Linked DNA regions of Homo sapiens: all the other regions are linked to region 3. The links come from fine-mapping of genetic effects on gene expression. A gene starts in region 3. Each other region holds a variant in brackets. All regions are shown on one strand. Distances are from middle to middle. Region 1 overlaps GPR84-AS1 (GPR84, ZNF385A, ITGA5 and GTSF1 antisense RNA 1). Region 2 overlaps GPR84-AS1 (GPR84, ZNF385A, ITGA5 and GTSF1 antisense RNA 1). Region 3 holds the start of GTSF1 (gametocyte specific factor 1).

What was found. PIP is the estimated chance that this variant, and not a neighbour inherited with it, causes the effect. A credible set is the group of variants that fine-mapping cannot tell apart.
Region 1: its variant is the best candidate, but not a certain one, in a credible set for the expression of GTSF1 in T cells (GENCORD, PIP 0.56).
Region 2: its variant is the best candidate, but not a certain one, in a credible set for the expression of GTSF1 in left ventricle (GTEx, PIP 0.57).

Annotation. Positions count from the first base shown.
Region 1 is chr12:54,446,739-54,450,968 of GRCh38, reverse strand. All of the region lies in intron 3 of GPR84-AS1 (GPR84, ZNF385A, ITGA5 and GTSF1 antisense RNA 1), which reads right to left. Among named protein-coding and RNA genes, the nearest start is that of GTSF1, 25 kb to the left of the region's middle. RefSeq lists a silencer at 2,328-2,528. The variant G/AG (reference allele first, on the strand shown) is at 1,703.
Region 2 is chr12:54,432,364-54,436,593 of GRCh38, reverse strand. The region is part of intron 3 of GPR84-AS1 (GPR84, ZNF385A, ITGA5 and GTSF1 antisense RNA 1); the gene reads right to left. Among named protein-coding and RNA genes, the nearest start is that of ITGA5, 15 kb to the right of the region's middle. The variant A/G (reference allele first, on the strand shown) is at 2,111.
Region 3 is chr12:54,471,985-54,476,214 of GRCh38, reverse strand. It overlaps GTSF1 (gametocyte specific factor 1), which reads left to right and starts at 2,613. Exons shown (of 9, transcript NM_144594.3): 1 at 2,613-2,669. RefSeq lists enhancers at 2,285-2,344, 2,010-2,536.

The DNA of each region.
Region 1 (4,230 bases), 25 kb after region 3:
ATCCTGGCTAACACGGTGAAACCCCGTCTCTACTAAAAATACAAAAAATTAGCCGGGCGTGGTGGTGGGTGCCTGTAGTCCCAGCTACTCAGGAGGCTGAGGCAGGGAATGGCGTGAACCCGGGAGGCAGAGCTTGCAGTGAGCTGAGATCACACCACTGCACTCCAGCCTGGGCGACAGAGCCAGACTCCATCTCAAAAAAAAAAAAAAAAAAAAACTGAAAGGGAGCTTAGAGAGTACCTGATCCAAAGCTTCATCTTACACATGAAGAAACAGGCCCTATACAAGTGTGAAACATGACAGTTTTTTAAAAGGAAATAGAACGATAAACACAAAGTTCAATATAGTGGTAATCCCTAGGGAAGAGGCCAGGATGAGGGGACCAGGAAGAAACACAGGATATTAGTAGTAGTCTGTTGGTAAGTTGGATGGTGAGTTTGTTGGTGTTTATTATGCTTCACAAGTGTGTATTAAATACTATATAATTTTAAAACACTTAAGAATAATTGTTAAAAGAGTTGCAAAGTTCTTACTATAGGCAAGTTACTGTTCTTACTTAGCATTTTATGTATTTTAACCCAGGAGGGAAAAAAAAACAGGCCCTGAAAATTTGATCCTTGCACAGCTTGTTAGTAGTGAGCTATGACCATAACCTGGGACTTCAGATTTCTAATTTACTGCTTTTATACGATTCTTCCCTAAATATTGATTCTACACTCAACTTCTCATTCTCTCAGGCTATGAGTTTCCTCCTGAACTCATTTCCACATCTGCCAGTTTAGACTCCATGATCCAGTACTTCAGTAGCCTAAACCAGCATCCTTAACCCCCGCTATTGTTCTGTCTCTGCTTTACCAATTCCCAAGTTGAGAGAAGCCCACCATCTTTTACTCTATTCCTGCTAGGTTATCAAGCATAGTTACAGAAAATCATATAACTATGCCACCTAACTCCACTGCAGATACAGATTTCTAAACTCGGGCACTCATTCCTGTTTGACTTTCAGATTTACCTGGTGGCCGTTGCAGCCCTTTTACTATTCTCAACTTCGTAGTCCCTACTTTCCATCCTCCACTATCAGGAGATGACATTGACTTTACCTCCAACTTTTTTGAACTCCTGGGCTCAAGCCATCCTCCCAAGTAGCTAGAGCTACAGGTGTGTGCCACCATACTCAGCTACTTTTTAAAAAGAATTTTTAGAGATGTGGTCTTAGTATATTGCCCAGGCTAGTCTCAAACTCCTGACCTCAAATGATCCTCAACCTCAGCCTCCCAAAGTACTGGGATTACAGGCATGAGCCACCACACCTGGTCTTGATTTCCTTGAGAAGGTACTGGTCATTGACCTTAACTTACTCTTTAACTCTTATAGCACCTCTTTTTCCTTTATCTCAGTATACTTCTGGCTGGGCACGGTTGCTCACGACTGTAATCCTAGCACTTTGGGAGGCCAAGGCAGGCGGATCACTTGAGGTCAGGAGTTCGAGACCAGCCTGGCCAACATAGTGAGACCCCCATCTCTACTAAAAATACAAAAAATTAGCTAGGCGTGGTGGTGCATGCCTGTAATCCCAGCTATTTGGGAGGTTGAGGCAGGAGAATCGCTTGAACCTGGAAGGCAGAGGTTGCAGTGAGCCAAGATGGTGCCACTGCACTGCAGCCTGGGCAACAGAGCAAGACTGTCTCAAAAAAAAAAAAAA[G/AG]TATACTTCCTCTACAAGGCTAACTTTGTCTGTGAACTTTGTACTGCATCACATTGTATTATCTATTGCTACATAACCAATTTCCCCAAAACATAGTGTATTAAAACAATAATAAACATTACTCTCATAATGTCTGTGGATAAGGAATTTGGGAGTTACTTAGCTGAGTAATCCTGGTTTGGGGTCTTTCATGTAGATGCAGTCAAGAGTCAGCCAGGGCTGGGCACAGTGGCTCACACCTGTAATCGCGCATCCCAGCACTTTGGGAGGCCAAAGTGGGCAGATCACTTGAGGTCAGGAGTTTGAGACTAGCCTGGCCAACATGGTGAGACCCTGTCTCTACTAAAAATACAAAAACTGGCCAGGGATAGTGGCATGCACCTGTAATCCCAGCCACTTGGGAGGCTGAGGCAGAAGAATTGCTTGAACCCAGGAGGTGGAGGTTGCAGTGAGCTGAGATCGTACCACTGCACTCCAGCCTGGGCGACAGAGCGAGACTCTGTCTAAAAAAAAACAGAAAGAGTCAGCCAGGGCTGCCATTTCTGAAGACTTGACTGAGGTGGGACGATTTGCTTCTTAAGTGGCTCACTTACATGCCTGGCAATTCAAGGCCTCAGTTGCTCCCCATGCGGGACTCTACAAAGCCTGCGAGTATCCTTACAACATGTCAACTGACTTCCCCCATGGTGGGCAATTTAAGAGCAAGGTGGAAGCTGTAAATTATTTTATGACCTAACTTCAGAAGTCACGCTACATCATTTCACAATATGCTTTTGGTTACACTGGTGAGCCCTTTTCATTGTGGGAGGGGACTTTACAGGAACATGAATGCCAGGAGGCAAGAATCAATGGGGGGCTGTCTTGAAGGCAGTCTACTACACTGAGCTTCTCCTATCCTCCAATATCTTCCATAAGTCAATTCCTCTCTCCTCTTTAGCTTTTTTTTCTTTGAGATAGGGCCACACTCTGTCACCCAGGCTGGAGTGTAGGGGTGCTATCATACTTCATTGCAACCTCAAACTCCTGGGCTCAAGCAATCTTCCCACCTTCCATGACTGGTCTTTCTTTCTTTTTTTTTTTTCTTTTTTTTTTTTGGTAGAGATGGGATCTCACTATGTTGCCCAGGCTGGTCTCAAACTCCTGGCCTCACGTGATCCTCCCATCTCAGCCTCCCAGAGTGTTGGGATTACAGGTGTGAGCCACCATACCCAACCCTCTTCTCTTTAAATTAACTCTACTCTTTCCTTAACTCTTTCAGCTATGAAAATGTTTATGTTTATTTTTTAAAATATATACCCTGTTCTCCATATTAATCAGGGTTTGGTTGCAGAGAACAGAATCGATTCTAGCTAGATTAAGCAGTAAAGGACTTATTACTAGGGCATCAAATGGATGGATCACAGAATTCTGGGGAAGGCTGAAGAAACAAACTCTAGACTGGACTTCCAGAAATGATTCCTAAAGACTGCTAAGGGAGGCCAGTCGTGGTGGCTCACACCTGTAATACCAGCACTTTGGGAGGCCAAGGTGGGCAAATTGCTTGAGCCCAGGAGTTGGAGACCAACCTGGGCAACATAGTGAAACCCTGTCTCCACTAAAAATACAAAAATTAGCTGGGGTATGGTGGCATGCGCCTGCAGTCCCAGCTACTCAAGAGGCTGAAATGGAAGGATTGCCTGAGCTCAGGAAACGGAGGTTTCAGTAAACCGAGATCTTACTACTGCACTCCAGCCTGGGTGAGAGAGTGAGATCCTGCCTCAAAAAAGAAACTGCTAATCAGGCCGGGCACGGTGGCTCACACCTGTAATCCCAGCACTTTGGGAGGCCGAGGCAAGTGGATCACCTGAGGTCAGGAGTTCAAGACCAGCCTGACCAACACGGTGAAGCCCCGTCTCTACGAAAAATACACAAAAATTATCCAGGCGTGGTGGTGGGTGCCTGTAATCCCAGCTACTCAGGAGGCTGAGACATGAGAATTGCTTGAACCCAGGAGGTAGAGGTTGCAGTGAGCTGCACTCCAGCCTGGACAACAGAGTGAAACTCCGTCTCAAAAAAAAAAAAAAGACTGCTAAAGGAGCTGCTACCGCTTCTACTATATTTAGGAAGCTTCTACTACATTCAAGAAGCTTCTACAATAGTTAGGAAGCTGCCATTGCAGCTGCTAGTCCAAGAAGTAACCACCTCTGCCACTGTCAGCATCCCTAAATGGATGCCCTGCACCCCGTCTTAACCCCTGCTGGCTTCAGAATCCAAGTGAAACACTAGTGCATCTGATTAGCAGAACTTAATTCAGAAGTGATTTAAGATAGCTAGCTAGAAGAGAATGTGGGAAATTTAGTCTTTAGCTTTCCAGCTTCTGCACACTAGAAGAGTGTGCATTCTGACCAAACAAATACATAAAATCCTTCACACTCCCACTGAAGCAATTACGACTTCGGTGCCAAGTTTTTTGAAAGAGTTGTCTATACCTGGTCTTAAATTCCCACTTACTCCTTAATCCATTGCAATCTGGCCACTCTATTACCATC
Region 2 (4,230 bases), 40 kb after region 3:
GCTAAATAGAAGAGCTAGTATGTTTATAAACCTACAAGAACTTTGAATATGCTCATGATAGAATAAATTTCATAGTTTTTCACAAAATGCCATTGAATAAGTGACTTCAGTAAACGCTATTTTCATTGAAACTTGGTTTTTTTTTTTGCACTCCTTGAAAACATTCTTCAGAGTAGGCTAAGGGATTTAATGAATTATATGGTTATCTTAATTTTCATTCAAAGGATGTTAGCCATGCTGCTATAACAAAGAAACCCACAAATATAGTGACCCTCTTACTTCAAATAAAGTAATAGTACAGAGATATATGGAGCAGATGGTCTTTGGTAGAAAAGGCTTGCATCTCTGGGTCCATGGTGGCTGCTTAATGTGTCACCATGTCATAGCAAGCAGAAGGATGAAAGAGTGAGAGAGCAACTACTTTTCCTCTTTAAAGACATGACCCAGAAGTTACACACATTGCTTCACTCACATTCCATTGACCAGAACGTAGTTATGGGACCACCTGTAATTGCAAGACAGACTGGACAGTGTAGTATCTAGCTGGCAGCCATGCACCCTGCTAAGATTTAGTGTGTGGATAGCAGGGTAGCAGAGTCATATTATTAAAAGGAAGAAGAGACAGGATGATGAGAATGAGTGGTCTCTGCCACACTTATAAAATATAATTTGTGGGGACAGGTCAGGTGACAAAAGTTAACAAGTAATTGGACCACATCTCTGGATCCAATTCAATAATTAGATGCAAATTAAAAACATGATAGTAAGAAACGCTATCTTGCTAGAAGACTACGTTGTAAAAAACAATGTCACACAATTCAGAAATTAGTTTTGTAATGTTGCTGTGTTATGTTTACCATTGCTTTAAAAACAGGTTCAGTTTATTCAAATATTTGTTTAGCCAGGCAACGTACTTGGCAGTGGAAAAACAGAAGTAAACAAGATCCTTACCTCACAGAACTTAGTCTAAAAGGAGAGACAAACAGGAAAATACAATATAGTGGGGTAGATGCTGTGACTAGTGAAATCAGGAGTACTGGGTGGGGAATTAATGAATGCTTCTTGGAGGAATCAGTGTTTGTGCTGAGACTTGATCTATAAAATACATTCCATTCAATCCCAGCTACCCGGGAGGCTAAGGCACGAGAAACACTTGAAACCCAGGAGGCAGAGGTTGCAGTGAGCCAAGATCACGCCACTGCACTCCAGCCTGGGCGACAGAGTGAGACTCCATCTCAAAAAAACAAAACAAAAAACAACATTACAGAGAGCACATCAGAGTTTAAATAGATTTCAGATTTATCAACAGACAGAATGAGGCTTTAATATTTATAACCAAGTACTGTAACCATACATATAGTATATTAGTTTAATTATCCCAACAAATCTATGAGAAAGATATTACTGCCATTTTACAGGTGAAGATATTGAGACCCAAGGAGGTTAAGTAACTTGCCAAGGTTACATATCTGTTAAGTAAGGGAGGCAACTTTCAAACTCAAGTCTTTTCAGATGACTTCCCTGTATAAAATAAAAGCACATTAACAAAAAGCAAACATTATCATTAAAAATTCTGGCCAGGCGCAGTGGCTCACGCCTGTAATCCCAGCACTTTGCGAGGCTGAGCCAGGCAGATCACAAGGTCAGGAGTTCGAGACCAGCCTGACCAACATGGTGAAACCCCGTCTCTACTAAAAATACAAAAATTAGCTGGGGGTGGTGGCGCGTGCCTATAATCCCAGCTACTCAAGAGGCTGAGGCAGGAGAATCATTGAACCCAGGTGGCGGACATTGCAGTGAGCCAAGATCGTGTCATTGCACTCCAGCCTGGACAACAGAGCGAGACTCAGTCTAAAAAAAAAAAAAAAAAATTCTATGGAACATGCTTTCATAAAATATTTAGAGTTGCTTCTATCATAGGTGCATTCAAATGTATTCAATTTCTAAATTATACAAGGACTTTATTAATACACTGGATAATTAAGTGCTAGACCATGTACTCCAGACTATAAGCCTAGGACTTCAGAATAGTGGCACATTGCTGAGATTTAGAATGAGCTGGGGAAGTCCAGGCTCAGTGGCTCACACCTGTAATCCCAGCACTTTCGGC[A/G]GCCGAGGCAGGCAGATCACTTGAGGTCAGGAGTTCAAGACCAGCCTGGCCAACATGGTAAAACCCCGTCTCTACTAAAAATATAAAAATTAGCCAGGCATGGTGGTTGGCACCTGTAATCCCAGCTATTCAGGGGGCTGAGGCAAGAGATTCACTTTAACCTAGGAGGCAGAGGTTGCAGTGAGCCGAGATCACGCCACTGCACTCCAGCCTGGGTAACAGAGCAAGACTTCATCTCAAATAAATAAATAAATGAATAAATAAATATTTTAAAATAAAATAAAGAGGCCAGGCGCAGTAGCTCACACCTGTGATCCCAGTACTTTGGGAGGCCGAGGCAGGCGGATCATGAGGTCAGGAGATCGAGACCAGCCTGGCTAACACGGTGAAACCCCGTCTCTATTAAAAATACAAAAAAATTAGCCGGGCGTGGTGGTGGGCGCCTGTAATCCCAGCTACTCGGGAGGCTGAGGCAGGAGAATGGCGTGAACCCGGGAAGCGGAGCTTGCAGTGAGCCGAGATGGCGCCACTGCACTCGGGCCTGGGCAGCAGAGCGAGACTCTGTCTCAAAAAAAAAATGAATAAATAAAATAAAATAAAATAAAGAATGAGATGGGGAAGCTTATGCAGGGCTTGGATGGGCCTTGATGACCAGTACAGAGGACAGTGCATTCCAGACACTGGAATCACAGGAGCAAAGCTGAAGACAAAATGGGCACATTAGTGAGACAATACTGAGACACTGAGACCCAAATGACTAAAGCAGAAGGTGTATTAGAAAGAAGCTTTCTGGTTCTCCCAGGTACAGGAGAAGGGAGAGATTGGAGACCTCAGGGTCATTTTACCCCCATTTAAGTGGCCATGGTAGCTGTGACCTACCCCCACTTTTCTAGGAAAAAATATATTCCAGCATTCCCAAGATCTTCTATCTTCATTGTAATCATTTTGTCACCTTGAATATCAAAAGACATATTATTTTCCTAATGCTAGTCCGGGGCTGTACCAATTGACAGACACAATCTTTGCTTCATTCAAGTTTCCAGTCTAATAGGATACAAACAGACAATTCAGAGAACAAAATGGGGCAAACTTAGCCCAAAATAAGAGCATCATGATTCCCTTAAGATGTCAAAGTGCTTACAGCTGTACCATGTAGGAGGCCATAACAAATGCTACATTTAAGAGGACACTAGGCATGGGTGGGGTGGTCCCAGGCTTGATAAGGTTACTTAAGCCCCCAAATCCTTGTGGTCAACCCGAACAGTCACCTGGAAAAGGGCTGATGAACAGGATACCTTTCCTCCAAAGGAATCCTGCCTCTCCTATATGCCCCGAAATGAGCATTGAGTGGGAAGCTAACCAGAGGGAAAAATAGGAGCTGCTGTTAGGGTCAGACAGGATCCAGCAGCCTGCAGCCTGGACCCAAGCGTGCGGAAAAGGCCATTGTCTGAGTGGCTTTCTGGATTTCCTGCCCTCAAACACCTACCCCGCCCAACATGCACACTCAATCTCTTGCCTCCTGCTCTGCCATCACTGTGATTAGCAGGCACTGCCCACCAAGAGGACAACAGACCACTGAGGTTCTCCTAAAGTGAGAAGGGAAATCACCCAGACCCATCCCCAGTGGGGAAAGGCAAAAAGATGACACAGAACAGGGCTTTAAGATTACTAGAGAAAAGTGTTTCCAGATCTTAATGAAGATCCAGGATCCTCCTTATCTCTCAACCCGCACTCATTTCTCCTAGGTCTACTCATCCAGGAGACGTAGAGTTTTCTGGCACAAGTGAGCAACAGCTGGATGGGGGTGGGGGGTGTGTCTATGTAGGTGTCTGTGCCTCCAGGCACGTCCCAGTGGTTTTTATGTGTGGGAGAGGAGAATTCAGCAAACAGGGTGTGGTTGTGGGTGTGTCTCACGTGGGATGAGGTATCTACAGAGCAGTTCTGTTGAGATCCTTGGGCTCCCTGCTCTACCAGCCCTGGCATTGAGTCCATTTCATGACCCTGATGAGACCAGATTCCCAGCTGATGACGCCCATTCCCAATCACCAGCTTCCAGCTCTTTGGCCCCTCCCCCATCCACACGCTTACTCCTCTGGCAGGCTAGCTGGGCTTTTGGCTGG
Region 3 (4,230 bases):
CTTATTCACAGGTGCTAAATGAAACAGCATTATCAGTTGAGGATCCTGTCATTCTGACAAGGCATTACTACTGAATGCAGTGAAGCCTGACTTTGGATTCTGGTTTGGTACCCATTCCCCTATCCTCCCAAGCCCTTAGCTCTTTCTTCCTCAGAAATTTCAATCTGCAGGTATCTGAATAAAATGTATTTATGGGTCACAGTAGCACTGTCAACAATTTCACCAGATTACTGCAATGTAAAGCCTGAAAAAATATTTCATTTCAAATCACACTGGCCCCAACAATCTGCATTAATGATACTGTGATAAAATCAGAGGTTTAGGATTTCATGAAAATTGTTTTAAAATATTTCCTAACAATCTAAAACTGATTTGCCAAAACAACTTTTTCCAAAATGATTAGTGCTAAGCTTGCAATGAAGCTTTCCTTCTTAGCAATTATCTTTCGCAAACCACTTTAACAGTTTGCTCCTCCTTCAAATGAATCATCCAGGCCATGGGTGAAAGAATGGCTTTTTTGATTTCAAAACAATGCCTAGGTCAGTTGTTCTCAGCCCTGGCTACACATTAAATTCATCTGGGTAGATTTTTAAAAATAACTATGCCTGGCTCTTTCACATTAATTGGTGTGGGATGGGAAGTTGGCATGGTATGTCTTAAAAGCTCCCCTGATGATTCTAAGGTGTAGACAAGATTAAGAACCACTAGCCTACAATGGCTTGAGCCTGGCTTCCATCAACACTTGGTTCTTTTTAGTGTCTTAATCTGAACTGATGGCTGTGGAGCAAACTCTCTTCTAGTAGGAAAAAAAGGTCGGGGGGAGGGGGTGCGGAGGGAGTAACAACAATAAACGCTCACAAATTAATCATGTAAAACGAAAACATCCCTTGCCCGGCGCAGTGGATCACACCTGTAATCTCAGCACTTTGGGAGGCCGAGGCAGGCAGATCACCTGAGGTCAGGAGTTTGAGACCAGCCTGGCCAACATGGTGAAACCCCCGTCTCTACTTAAAAAAAAAAAAAAAAAAGCTGGGTGTGGTAGTGCCTGCCTGTAGTTCCAGCTTCTCAGGAGGCTGAGGCAGGAGAATCACTTGAACCCAGGAGGCGGAGGTTGCAGTGAGCCGAGATCATGCCACTGCTCTCCTGCATGGGCGACAGAGCGAGACTCCATCTCAAAAAAAAAAAAGAAGAAAAAGAAAATGCCCCACTGATCCTTTTTACTAAAGCTACATTCAGTTTTTGTCAGGGTAGTCCTCTCAAGTCCTATTTGGGCTCTACACCACTGAAATGCTGTAGAAATCCCAATATTTCACTGCCCAGACTAATCACCCAGACTGCCTCCTACATCTTGAACAGCACAGAATGTTTTGTCATATCTTTTACTTCTTGGTTTTGAAAAATATTACCACCAGATCTACTTGTAGTGTCAACACCTTCCTTTTTTTGTCTAACCTTCAAAGGCTACAAGTCCCTTTTCTCTATAATGCCTTCCCAGGTCATTTCAGGCCCCATTAATTTTTTTCCTTACAGGAATTTACAGTCTCTACCACTTTTTTTGGCATTTTTTGTACTGCTATTAAACCTTTCATCCACTTTGGGAGTCGTTTTTCTAAGCACTCTGGGGACAAGAACTGCAGCTTACACTTTTTTTCCCCAGAACAAAGCCTCACACTACGTTTGGTTTTCCCTTAACAAGTTGTAACCTTCCGGCCTTCTTGTCCTCTCCAACTCTTCATTGAGCTCTCTCCCCAACTCTAAAACTCGCTTTCATCAGGCAGCAACAACCATCATCCTACCAAGCATTCTCAGATAGTTAGTGCCTTTTGAATTTTGGGATTTTACAACACATTCTAAACAAGAACAGCCAGACACAAAATTCCTGTCCTTGGTGATTGTTTTGTGGCTGCACTGCGTATCTCCTTTATAATTCCTCTTCTCTTCCCTCAAAATCTAAATTACCTTTCTATCTAGACAACTTCCACAAACAAGGCTTCTTTCTAGGCAGCTCCCCACCTCTAACCAGTTCCATCAGTCCCATTCCCTCAGGCGCCATTTTTTTTTTTTTTTTTTTTTTTTTCCTGAGACGGAGTCTCACTCTGCCGCCCAGGCTGGAGTGCAGTGGTGCAATCTCGGCTCACTGCAGCCTCCGCCTCCCGGGTTCAAGCAATTCTCCTGCCTCAGCCTCCCAAGTAGCTGGGATTACAGGCGCCCGCCACCACACCCAGCTAATTTTTGTATTTTTAGTAGAGACGAGGTTTCACCATGTTGGCCAGGCTGGTCTTGAACTCCTGAGGTAATCGCAGGTGCCCATTTCTAAGTGCTCATCTGCCTTTTCTAAGATGGCCGCCACAAAACCCAGGGAAAGAAATGCGAGTTCTACCCTCTCAAGGCCACTGTTGTTCTGGGGGCCAGGGGAGGATGGCCCCAAAGATGGGGTGCCCAAGGAGGAGATCCTCGTGGGAAAGGGTCATCAGGGAGCTGACCCTAGGGGCTCACAGGTGAACTCCACAGCTGATCCACCCTGCCCCACACTCAGCCAGAACCGAGACTCCCAGTCACAGGAAGTGCCGGCCCCTCGCCCCACCTCCCAACGTTAGGCGCCGGAAGTGGCCGTTGCTGGGGCTTGCGTGGGAGGAAGGTGACTGTGAGGAAGGTGTGTGTCCACCGAGGTAAGGAAAGGCACCCCGGGGCGCCTCTAAGCAATTCCTATTTTGCGTACCGGGATACCTTCACCTTCTAATATCCTCATTTCGCTTTTCTGCTGGTAGCCTTCAGCCTTGTGGGCTCTCAATGCAGCTATTTTGGCTACCAACCTGTTTCGCTGCATTGCCCACTCGAGGGCCTCCTTGGCGCCTTTTCTATGTTTTTTTTAAGTTAACCACCTCCCCCACTTTCTCTTATTTAGTCTCATTGATTAAGTCTACTGTGATTTTGTTGTTGTTGTTGTTGTTTAAAGGAAGAAAAATGATTCTTTTACTAAGGCCGGAATTCTGTTAAGCGTTTAACCAGTAGCCGCCGACTACATCCATACCCTAAACTTGATTGCTTCCGGCGTAGCTTGTCTATTTCACCGTGATCTAGTAGTAGGGAAAAGGTAAAGAATCCCGTTAACAGTTTGATGCGGAAGATACTTAAAACAGACACGGCTAAGTGATGGTACTGTGAATTCCAGTGCCCCTAGTGTACTGTAATTCGTCCTTTTGTCCGGGAAGAATAGGTTGGCTTCCTACAAGCTGCTGAATCTGGTGCTCATCACTTAAAATCAAGAAACATACTTGGTTCTTCCTTCCAAAACTCTTATTTTTAATGAAAAAGTATGAAGTAACTATGTATAAGTGAAATATATACAAAAAGACGGTGGGGATTTCTTGATCCAAACATAAATATGAAAAATATTTTTAAGACAAATTCACTAATGATTGTCATTAACAAATGGGCTCAGTAGCAAAAAAACTAGAGTTCTAGCTGATCACTTGTATTTCCTATCATAGGTTCTAACGCTGCTTATGTCACAGAATGGGGGGAGGGGTGGTGAGGAGTGTAGAATTGTGTGAGGGGCCAAAGGAGAGCATGCTCTAGAGACAGACAATTTTCAGAAGTTTCGTATGGGGATGGTTTTATATAAATTCAGGTTTTTCCCACAATAATAAATGTATTTAGTCTCAGTGCTCAATAGAAGAGATTTCTAATAGAAAAGGATTCAAACTGTGAAACCATTTCTCTTTTAATGTTTCACATTCCTGTTACAGATTTGTTCTCTTGTGACTCTGTTATCCATAATATGGACAGTTCTTGAGTCCTAACATTGAGAGGTTTTCCCTTAGTGCATAGAGGGAATGAGTATTAATTGGAGAAGCTTAAAGTATTGCCACTTTAGCACTGAAGATTGGGATGAGAGGAGGTGAAACCTCACTAGAAAAAGGGACAATGTTAGTGTGGCCCTTCCTGATCATGTTTAAGAAAAGTCATGAAAATGGTGAACTAGTGTTTCCAAGCATATTGGAAGGGTTGAGTGTATACTGTCTGTCAAAGACTTCCAGCATTTCCAGGTCCTAGAGAGGAACAAGACTGGTAACCTGCCTATCTGTATTTTTAAGAACCCAGGAGGAAAGCTTTATAATAGAACATTATTTCTGTGTTTATGTATAAGGGGTTTTTTGTTTTTTTAAAGACAGGATCTCACTCCATTGTCCAGGCCAAGTGCAATGGCACGAACCTCATAGCTCCTGG